Linked DNA regions of Homo sapiens. The protein of the gene in region 1 purifies or fractionates together with the protein of each later gene. This does not show direct contact. Each region holds a gene or a part of one and is shown on either strand. Other genes may lie near its edges. The genes, in order: BCAN, CCNYL1 and VCAN.

The links.
Region 2: the proteins of BCAN (region 1) and CCNYL1 purify together in Homo sapiens (affinity purification with mass spectrometry; 2 studies listed by BioGRID and IntAct, with this or other methods). This does not show direct contact.
Region 3: the proteins of BCAN (region 1) and VCAN purify together in Homo sapiens (affinity purification with mass spectrometry; 3 studies listed by BioGRID and IntAct, with this or other methods). This does not show direct contact.

What each region holds. Positions count from the first base shown.
Region 1 is NC_000001.11:156,645,117-156,648,716, reverse strand, and holds part of BCAN (brevican core protein isoform 1 precursor), read right to left. Parts: exon of another isoform or gene 3,335-3,600; coding exon of another isoform or gene 3,208-3,334; intron 2,982-3,207; exon of another isoform or gene 2,671-2,981; coding exon of another isoform or gene 2,663-2,670; coding exon 2,572-2,662; exon of another isoform or gene 1,917-2,571; coding exon 1,542-1,916; intron 1,210-1,541; coding exon 1,035-1,209; intron 735-1,034; coding exon 607-734; intron 150-606; coding exon 1-149. UniProt on the Homo sapiens protein: May play a role in the terminally differentiating and the adult nervous system during postnatal development. Could stabilize interactions between hyaluronan (HA) and brain proteoglycans.
Region 2 is NC_000002.12:207,709,436-207,713,256, forward strand, and holds the start of CCNYL1 (cyclin-Y-like protein 1), read left to right. Parts: upstream 1-2,204; 5' UTR 2,205-2,461; coding exon 2,462-2,681; intron 2,682-3,821. UniProt on the Homo sapiens protein: Key regulator of Wnt signaling implicated in various biological processes including male fertility, embryonic neurogenesis and cortex development. Activates the cyclin-dependent kinase CDK16, and promotes sperm maturation.
Region 3 is NC_000005.10:83,537,614-83,541,434, forward strand, and holds part of VCAN (versican core protein isoform 1 precursor), read left to right. Parts: coding exon 1-3,821. UniProt on the Homo sapiens protein: May play a role in intercellular signaling and in connecting cells with the extracellular matrix. May take part in the regulation of cell motility, growth and differentiation. Binds hyaluronic acid.

The DNA.
Region 1 (3,600 bases):
TAGCCACCCTGGGCTGCAGTGGTCCAGGCCACCATCCCAGGCTGCATACAGTTGGCCCGTGGTGGCAATCTCTGCACCCCGCTCCTGGCAGTACGCCCGTGCTTCCTCCAATGTCAGCTTCTCTGGAGGGTCACCCAGGAACAGTTCTCCTGGGTGGAGAAGAGAAGGCTGGGTTATCAGGCAGCTGGTAGCTCCTTCCACTCTGGTCTCCCATGGGAACCCTGGGCAAGCTTCTCCAGTTCCCTCATCTGTGGCAGGGAGTCAACTACTCTACTTCATAGGATCATAGTCTGAATAGAACCTCAAGATGGATATTAGAGCTCAAAGAGATGGGGCCCAAACTTCTTGTTCTGCAGAGTCATGCACAGAGTCCACCTGGCAGGTGGTAGATGAGTTAAACTCGGTATCCTGCTGCCTGGCTGAGACTTTGGTCATGAGCTTGCCTCTGTGACAGTGTTTGGAGAGAGGGACACCAATTGTCTCCTTACTCCTGCTTGCCCCCTTAAACTCAGGAGGGATAGTAAGGTCCTGCAGAGGCCCCGGGAGGACCTATGGGCAGCATGGGAGTAGGAAATTGTCCCCTGGGAACCTCTCACTCCTAATCACCATTTAGGTCTTCAGCATAACAGTACACATCATAGAGGTCATCCGGGTCCACCACACCATAGTTCCGGACCCCGGGGAAGCCATCCATGTCTCCGTAACAGGCCTCTCGTGGGGTCTGGATGGGATACCTAGGGAGGAAGGACAGAATCACTTAGTACAGATGCTTTCACCAGGGAGCCAGCCCATATTGATTCTATTGAACCCCACTGCCACCACAGTGCAGACACTTGCTGACAGCTGGCTGTCCTTCTAGCACTGCAGGGATGCACATGCTCAGGGTCCTCACCTCCCCTCCTCAGACCAGCCTCATCCCCCAGAGGCAAAAAGCCCTGCATGTCCAGCCTGACACAGCAGGCAGCACCCAGCAGAAGGGGGGCCATGGCCACCTCAGGGGCCAATAGAAGCCCCAATCCACAGCCCCTGCCCACCTCACGGTCTGATCCGACAGCCAGCCAGCATCACATTGCTCATAGCCCCCAAGGTAGGCGGCATAGAGCTGCTCCGGGGTGGCGATGTGGGCTCCAATGCGGGCACAGGCCTCCTGGGCCCCAGAAAAGGAGAAAGCATAGCGGGCAGAGCCCTCTCGGTAGAGAAAGACGACCCCTGTGGGGCAGAGAGGACCCCTGAGCCAGGTGAGCACCCAGCACGCTGGCCTCCCCTCACCCTCCTTGTCACTCCTCTGTACACAAGGGTAAATAAAGTTCAATTGTGCTCACTCTACAGCATGAGGGACTTAAGTTAGATTGTGGGTAGAATGTCCTCCACCTGAAGAGAGAAAGGAGACAACAAAGGCCCGTGTCTCCTCACTCTTTTTCCAACCCAGGCTGCGCCTTCCAGCTACCTTTGCTTCCCTCTCACACTGTGGGATCCCCGAAGGCAAGAGTCCTCCCTTCCCTCCCTCCCTCCCTCCCTCTGGAACCTCCCTGCCCTCTCACCTTTGACCTTGACCTCCACAGCGTCGCTGCTGTCATCGATGCCGTGCTGGACCTCACAGCGATAGATACCTGAGTCGTTGGGGCGCAGCTCGCTCAGCGCCAGGGAGACGTCGGTGAGCGACGCTGGGTACGCAGGCAGTGCCACGCGGAACCGGTAGGCCTCGTTCACCTTGACGCGCACTCCCCGCGCCACCAGCACCTCTGCCTCCCGGCCCCGGGACAGGAAAGTCCACTTGACCCGCGGAGAGCCCAGCACAGCCCGGCGGCTCGGCGGTGGCCGCAGGTAGTGGACGTGGCAAGGGATGGTGAGGGCGCCGCCGAGCACGCCCTGCAGTGGCGCGTCGCCCGCGATGCGCACGCGAAAAGCGCGGTCCTCTGTGAACGGGTGGAGCCGGCTGGAACTTAACGCTGTCGACCCTCAGAGTCCCACCCGGTGGCCTCCAAGCCCCGCTCCAGGATCCCTCCTTCCGGCCCCAGGATTCCCCGGCCCCCCTAGGACCAGGGGCCAGGGGCCAGGGGCCAGGGTCCTGCAGCCCTACCTCTAGGTCCTCCAGGACCACCCCGACGGTCTCCAGACCCATCCCCCAAAGTCTCCCAGTCAATTCAGCCCCCAGGATTCCTTGCCCTGCTCTCAGAGTCTTCCACTTCCTCTCCAAAATTCCTAGACCACACCCCAGGGTCCTCCAACCTCGCCCCCTGAGTCCTCCAGCCCAGTTTCCCAGTCTGCTCCCTTTAGGGCCTCCTTCAGGGTTTCTCCCAGTTCCACCCCTTTCCCACCTCCTAGCTTCAGGATCCCCTATCCTCCACCTTAGGGGCCCAAAGCCTTGCACCCAGTGCCCTTCCCTAGTCCTGCCCCATGATTTCTCCAACCCACCAGATGCTCACAGCTCAGCCCTTATTTCCAAGTGTTCCAGCCTGGACGCTTCCCCACAGCCCTCCAATTCTCTCTCTTCCTGGGGCCCCTAAGCCTGGAAGCAGTTGGTTAGGGCTGAACAAGACAGAGACGGTGACCCCAAGTGGGGTTGCTTACCTGAGCTGTCTCCTTCCAGAACATCTGCTAAAGCTGCAGGAGCCTGGGCCAGGACCAGGGCTGCCAGCAGGGGCAGGAACAGCTGGGCCATGCTGCAGGCTGACAGAGGGACATGAGAAGGAAAGATGGGGTTAGACTTCAGGATGGACTTCCCCCCTGCTCCCTACCACACCCATGTGGGTTCACACATATCCTGGCTCCAGAAGTCCCCTACCTTCACATCACCATGGACTCTCTGTTTCTGATCCCCATCTTCCCAGCAAGTGATTTCTTCTCAGAACCAAAACCCGAGTCCTAGTCAACTCACTGTGTGACCTAAGCCAAGCTCCTTACCTTCTCTGAGCCTTTATTTTCTTACTTATAAAAAAGCATCATCATTACTATCTCATGAGTTGAGATAGGACCATGTGCTTTGAGAGTGTTTAGTATCTTAAAACTCCTGTACAAATGCATAGCACCAGGCAGACAGTAGGAGCTCAGTTTACAGCATGAATGGTGGGTGCTCTTATACTCAGAATTCCATCTGCTCCTCCCAGTGCCAGACTCCTTCCTCGAACCCAGAGCCTTCTCCCATAGTATCTCTTTAGCCTCTTCTGCCTTCTAGACTGTCCCTGCCTCCAGGGACACCATACTCACCTGGCCTTTTCCAGGAGGGCCTCCTAGACCGAACGCAAGTAAGCACAGCTTCTCCTGAGCCCACCCTCTCCTCTACTTCCTCCCCACCATTATTTGTAAGGAAACTCCTCTCTTTACTCCCCAACATTCTCCATCCCCCTTCCTTGGCTGCCTCCTCCCTTCTTCTTCCCAGCCTCTCCTTTCTGCCTGGCACGGGCTTTCCCACCGGAACTCTTGGCTCAGAAATCAGTTGGGACAAAGCCCCTGTCTCTGCCAGTCTGGCCTCTATCCAGCCCCTCCCTTCCCCCACCCTACCTTTTGTGAAAGCCTTGGGCTGGAGGGTGGACTAAGGGGGGGGAGAATAAATGGGAGGGGCTACCCCTTCCTACCCCTGGCTATCAGAAGCTCTAGAAC
Region 2 (3,821 bases), on another chromosome or scaffold:
CTTAAAAAGTATGTGACATGTGCTAAGAGCTCAGGTATTGAATGGATAGTGAACGTATGAGTTAACTCTGGACCTATATAAAGTCTCAGCTTCTTTCACAGAATCAAACTCTTGCTTAATTCAAAGCACATTCCTCCTACTTGCTTCCCTTTGCTCTCCCAGGCTTGCCACTGTTACAGAATTTTTTTTTCTTAATTCTCTCTAATATTCCCTTCATTCAAAATGTTTTAAAATCTATTTCCGTAACAATGCTTCCCAATATCTTCCTGGTTAGCAAGTTTTAAATTCTTCAGTTTTCAAGGTCGTAGATATCTATTTTTGTGTATGTCTGTTGTTAAATGCAGGCATTATTTTGTACCTTAAAATAGGCATCGTCTCAAGTCTACAAGAATCATCCAAAATGGTATCTAATGACATTCCTAGGGTTTCAGACAATTTTTTTTTTCTTTGAGACGGAGTCTTGCTCTGTCGCCCAGGCTGGAGTGCAGTGGACTGATCTTGGCTCACTGCAATCTCTGCCTCCCAGGTTCAGGAGATTCTCCTGCCTCAGCCTCCCTAGTAGCTGGGACTATGGGTGGACGCCACCATGCCTGGCTAATTTTTGTGTTTTTAGTAGAGACGGGGTTTCTCCATGTTGGTCAGGCTGGTCTTGAACTCCTGACCTCAAGCAATTCACCCGCCTCTGCCTCTCTAAGTGCTGGGATTACAGACGTGAGCCACCGCGCCCAACAAGAGCAAAACTCCGTCTCAAAAAAAAAAAAACAAAAAAAAAACAATCCCATTTTGCAGGTTTTATAGAAGAAATTGGGACGCAGAAGTTAAGTTACTTCCGCAAGCTTACATGACTGCTCAGGGTGAGGGTCCCTGATCATGATGATCAGAAAATAAAGGTAGAAATCAAGCTTAGGGAGGAAGTGACATTGTGTGTATATATATATATTTGTTTATTTATTTTTATTTTTATGTTTTATTTTTTTGAAACGGAGCCTAGGTCGCCCAGGCTGGAGTGCAATGGCGCGATCTCGGCTTACGGCAACCTCTGCCTCCCGGGTTCAAGTGATTCTCCTGCCTCAGCCTCCCGAGTAGCTGGGAATACGGGCGCGTGCCACCATGCCCGGCTAATTTTTTGTATTTTTAGTAGAGACGGGATTTCACCGTGTTAGCCAGGATGGTCTGGATCTCCTGACCTGGTGATCCGCCCGCCTCGGCCTCCCAAAGTGTTGGGATTACAGGCATGAGCCACCGCGCCCGGCCGGGATTGTTTTTAAGGGTTAAATAAATATACCACAGTTGGAACACTGTCTGGCACATAGTGCTTGCCAAATGGTAACTATTCATCTTCATGGAATCAAGACTGTGGTGCCCCACTGCATGGTTCTCAGTTTTGCGTGAGAAAATCGTGCTTTCTGTGCTGTTTTTAGTACAAGAAGAGAAACCTGGAAGTCCCTGCCTAGAGGAGAGAAACAGGCAAGAAAAGGGAGTTGGCGAGTCCCAGCATTTCAGAGTTGGCAGGGACGAGTTAGGTCCCTATTTTATGGATGAGGAAGTGGAAGGGTGACGTGTCCTCGAGTCTCATTCAAGACCCACAGCCACAACTCTTTATGGAGAGTAGGACCAGGGCCCCAGGGTTGCTATGATCACGTTGCAGGTGAAAACTAACGCTCATTGGAAGACAGGAGCGGAGCACTGAGTTACAAAAACAGTTAACAATTTGGGTGTAACCAAGTTTAGTGAGCAAACGAAAGCTGTCAGACTCGGAAGAAGAGTTGCTAATGGAGCGAACTCTTTACTAATAACGGCTTTCTACAGAGATCATTGACACAGCTTCCAGTTACAAATGCCCGTGCGCTTCCAGTAGGACCGGAAAGCTCCCAGCAGCCAGCGATGAATGAAAACCCGAGTCTGGGATAGCGGCGTGAGGGGCTGGGCAGCTGCCAGGCGGGGGCGGGGCAGCAGGTCACGTGCCTGGCTTCGAGGCGGGCGCCGGAGGGGGAACTCTGACCATGATTGGTTCCTCCTAACCAGGTGACCGCAGGTCGCGTTCCGGTTGGCAGGCACCGGCCAGGGCCAGCGGCCTTCAGTCGGTAGGCGGCGGCGGAAGGAGGAGGAGCTCCAGCCGCGCTCTCTCCCGGCAGTGGCTGTGCTTCACAGCGCTTGTTGGGTTCCCCACCCCTTTTAAATAAGCCGGGCTGGTCACCGCCCTCGCAGACGAGTCAGCTTAAGGGAGGCGGCGGCAGCGCGGCGGTGGGGGTGCGGCCGAGGCCCGAGCCCTGCCCGGGGCCGGGCCGCGGGGCGGGCGGGCGAACCGCGGGCGAGGCGGCGTCTGCTTGCGCGGTGCAGCCCCAGCGTAGCCCGGGGCTGCCGGTGCCGGCCGCGCCATTGTTGGGGGAGGGGGCGGCTGTTGAGGGCGGCGGAGTAGGGGGCGAGCGAAGGCGGTGGCAGAGAGGAGCGGAGGCTTCCCATGGGGAACACGCTGACCTGTTGCGTGTCCCCCAATGCCAGCCCCAAGCTGGGCCGGCGCGCGGGGTCGGCGGAGCTGTACTGCGCGTCCGACATCTACGAGGCGGTGTCCGGGGACGCGGTGGCGGTAGCGCCCGCTGTGGTGGAGCCTGCCGAGTTGGATTTCGGAGAGGGCGAGGGCCACCACCTGCAGCACATCAGCGACCGCGAGATGCCCGAAGGTAAGGAGGCGGCGGATGCCATCCGCCCTCGGGCTCACCTCTGCCCGCCTCCTCCCCCAGAGTCCCCCGGGAGGCATCCGCCGCCTCGGGCTCCTTCCTGCCGGTAGCCGGCCCCGGGACGAAGGCTGGTTCTGCCTCGCGTCCCCACCCCTTATTCTTGCCCTGCTGCGTCTGGCCAGTTTCTTTTCCTCCTCCTTACCGTAACGCCCAGTTCTTGCTCCCGCTTCCCATTCTCCCAAGCCGGCGTGGGACCCTCTAGTCCGCCGCCCTTCTTGTTTGTAGCTCTGTTCATTGTCTGGTGGGACTTTGCTAAGACTTTTGGGGTATATTGTTTTCCTTTTCTCAATGGAAACTCAAATACCTCAACTTCGGAGTACTCATCCCATTCCCTCCCTTAACCCATCCAGATGGTACCTAAGTGAAGGAACCAGGTAAGGGTCTGATTGTTCCTTCCTCCCATCCGTGAAGATAGCTGATGCCCGCGACAGTTTAGACCCAGATGTTTGAGGATTTCTTATCTAGACTCAAAATAGAGGTTGCCATAGGAGACACTATATGGTATTCCTAATAGGTTAAGTCGGCGTGAAAGAAGCTGCTTTATTCCTTCCAACTATAATTTGAACACAGAAAGAAAGAAAATGGGGGGAGGGGCGTAAAATGACTGTGAAGGGTGTGAGAGGTTATTACCAGGGGTGCAGACAAGTTGTTTTTTTGAGACGGAATCTCGTTTTGTCGCCCGCCCAGGCTGGAGTGCAGTGGCGCGATCTCGGCTCGCTGCAACCTCCGCCTCTCGGTTTCAAGCGATTCCTCTGCCTCAGCCTCCCGAGTAGCTGGGATTACAGGCGTGCGCCACCACGCCCAGCTAATTTTTGAATTTTTAGTAGAGACGGGGTTTCACCATGTTGGTCAGGCTGGTCTCTAACTCCAGAGTTCTTGATCCGCCCGCCTCGGCCTCCCAAAGTGCTGGGATTACAGGCGTGAGCCACCGCGCCCAGAGGTTGTTAACTCAAAGGAGTTTAGCCACGGAGTTCTGATTACTTTAAAATTCCCACGGTGGCAAATACATCTCCAGCCATTCTCCGGTGACTTAACAGACTTCAATACCTCCTTGTTCTAAAAGAGAGGTGGGGTGGTTCATGG
Region 3 (3,821 bases), on another chromosome or scaffold:
TGAACCTGTATCTCTGTTTCCTGAAGAGTCTTCAGGAGAGATTGCCATTGACCAAGAATCTCAGAAAATAGCCTTTGCAAGGGCTACAGAAGTAACATTTGGTGAAGAGGTAGAAAAAAGTACTTCTGTCACATACACTCCCACTATAGTTCCAAGTTCTGCATCAGCATATGTTTCAGAGGAAGAAGCAGTTACCCTAATAGGAAATCCTTGGCCAGATGACCTGTTGTCTACCAAAGAAAGCTGGGTAGAAGCAACTCCTAGACAAGTTGTAGAGCTCTCAGGGAGTTCTTCGATTCCAATTACAGAAGGCTCTGGAGAAGCAGAAGAAGATGAAGATACAATGTTCACCATGGTAACTGATTTATCACAGAGAAATACTACTGATACACTCATTACTTTAGACACTAGCAGGATAATCACAGAAAGCTTTTTTGAGGTTCCTGCAACCACCATTTATCCAGTTTCTGAACAACCTTCTGCAAAAGTGGTGCCTACCAAGTTTGTAAGTGAAACAGACACTTCTGAGTGGATTTCCAGTACCACTGTTGAGGAAAAGAAAAGGAAGGAGGAGGAGGGAACTACAGGTACGGCTTCTACATTTGAGGTATATTCATCTACACAGAGATCGGATCAATTAATTTTACCCTTTGAATTAGAAAGTCCAAATGTAGCTACATCTAGTGATTCAGGTACCAGGAAAAGTTTTATGTCCTTGACAACACCAACACAGTCTGAAAGGGAAATGACAGATTCTACTCCTGTCTTTACAGAAACAAATACATTAGAAAATTTGGGGGCACAGACCACTGAGCACAGCAGTATCCATCAACCTGGGGTTCAGGAAGGGCTGACCACTCTCCCACGTAGTCCTGCCTCTGTCTTTATGGAGCAGGGCTCTGGAGAAGCTGCTGCCGACCCAGAAACCACCACTGTTTCTTCATTTTCATTAAACGTAGAGTATGCAATTCAAGCCGAAAAGGAAGTAGCTGGCACTTTGTCTCCGCATGTGGAAACTACATTCTCCACTGAGCCAACAGGACTGGTTTTGAGTACAGTAATGGACAGAGTAGTTGCTGAAAATATAACCCAAACATCCAGGGAAATAGTGATTTCAGAGCGATTAGGAGAACCAAATTATGGGGCAGAAATAAGGGGCTTTTCCACAGGTTTTCCTTTGGAGGAAGATTTCAGTGGTGACTTTAGAGAATACTCAACAGTGTCTCATCCCATAGCAAAAGAAGAAACGGTAATGATGGAAGGCTCTGGAGATGCAGCATTTAGGGACACCCAGACTTCACCATCTACAGTACCTACTTCAGTTCACATCAGTCACATATCTGACTCAGAAGGACCCAGTAGCACCATGGTCAGCACTTCAGCCTTCCCCTGGGAAGAGTTTACATCCTCAGCTGAGGGCTCAGGTGAGCAACTGGTCACAGTCAGCAGCTCTGTTGTTCCAGTGCTTCCCAGTGCTGTGCAAAAGTTTTCTGGTACAGCTTCCTCCATTATCGACGAAGGATTGGGAGAAGTGGGTACTGTCAATGAAATTGATAGAAGATCCACCATTTTACCAACAGCAGAAGTGGAAGGTACGAAAGCTCCAGTAGAGAAGGAGGAAGTAAAGGTCAGTGGCACAGTTTCAACAAACTTTCCCCAAACTATAGAGCCAGCCAAATTATGGTCTAGGCAAGAAGTCAACCCTGTAAGACAAGAAATTGAAAGTGAAACAACATCAGAGGAACAAATTCAAGAAGAAAAGTCATTTGAATCCCCTCAAAACTCTCCTGCAACAGAACAAACAATCTTTGATTCACAGACATTTACTGAAACTGAACTCAAAACCACAGATTATTCTGTACTAACAACAAAGAAAACTTACAGTGATGATAAAGAAATGAAGGAGGAAGACACTTCTTTAGTTAACATGTCTACTCCAGATCCAGATGCAAATGGCTTGGAATCTTACACAACTCTCCCTGAAGCTACTGAAAAGTCACATTTTTTCTTAGCTACTGCATTAGTAACTGAATCTATACCAGCTGAACATGTAGTCACAGATTCACCAATCAAAAAGGAAGAAAGTACAAAACATTTTCCGAAAGGCATGAGACCAACAATTCAAGAGTCAGATACTGAGCTCTTATTCTCTGGACTGGGATCAGGAGAAGAAGTTTTACCTACTCTACCAACAGAGTCAGTGAATTTTACTGAAGTGGAACAAATCAATAACACATTATATCCCCACACTTCTCAAGTGGAAAGTACCTCAAGTGACAAAATTGAAGACTTTAACAGAATGGAAAATGTGGCAAAAGAAGTTGGACCACTCGTATCTCAAACAGACATCTTTGAAGGTAGTGGGTCAGTAACCAGCACAACATTAATAGAAATTTTAAGTGACACTGGAGCAGAAGGACCCACGGTGGCACCTCTCCCTTTCTCCACGGACATCGGACATCCTCAAAATCAGACTGTCAGGTGGGCAGAAGAAATCCAGACTAGTAGACCACAAACCATAACTGAACAAGACTCTAACAAGAATTCTTCAACAGCAGAAATTAACGAAACAACAACCTCATCTACTGATTTTCTGGCTAGAGCTTATGGTTTTGAAATGGCCAAAGAATTTGTTACATCAGCACCAAAACCATCTGACTTGTATTATGAACCTTCTGGAGAAGGATCTGGAGAAGTGGATATTGTTGATTCATTTCACACTTCTGCAACTACTCAGGCAACCAGACAAGAAAGCAGCACCACATTTGTTTCTGATGGGTCCCTGGAAAAACATCCTGAGGTGCCAAGCGCTAAAGCTGTTACTGCTGATGGATTCCCAACAGTTTCAGTGATGCTGCCTCTTCATTCAGAGCAGAACAAAAGCTCCCCTGATCCAACTAGCACACTGTCAAATACAGTGTCATATGAGAGGTCCACAGACGGTAGTTTCCAAGACCGTTTCAGGGAATTCGAGGATTCCACCTTAAAACCTAACAGAAAAAAACCCACTGAAAATATTATCATAGACCTGGACAAAGAGGACAAGGATTTAATATTGACAATTACAGAGAGTACCATCCTTGAAATTCTACCTGAGCTGACATCGGATAAAAATACTATCATAGATATTGATCATACTAAACCTGTGTATGAAGACATTCTTGGAATGCAAACAGATATAGATACAGAGGTACCATCAGAACCACATGACAGTAATGATGAAAGTAATGATGACAGCACTCAAGTTCAAGAGATCTATGAGGCAGCTGTCAACCTTTCTTTAACTGAGGAAACATTTGAGGGCTCTGCTGATGTTCTGGCTAGCTACACTCAGGCAACACATGATGAATCAATGACTTATGAAGATAGAAGCCAACTAGATCACATGGGCTTTCACTTCACAACTGGGATCCCTGCTCCTAGCACAGAAACAGAATTAGACGTTTTACTTCCCACGGCAACATCCCTGCCAATTCCTCGTAAGTCTGCCACAGTTATTCCAGAGATTGAAGGAATAAAAGCTGAAGCAAAAGCCCTGGATGACATGTTTGAATCAAGCACTTTGTCTGATGGTCAAGCTATTGCAGACCAAAGTGAAATAATACCAACATTGGGCCAATTTGAAAGGACTCAGGAGGAGTATGAAGACAAAAAACATGCTGGTCCTTCTTTTCAGCCAGAATTCTCTTCAGGAGCTGAGGAGGCATTAGTAGACCATACTCCCTATCTAAGTATTGCTACTACCCACCTTATGGATCAGAGTGTAACAGAGGTGCCTGATGTGATGGAAGGATCCAATCCCCCATATTACACTGATACAA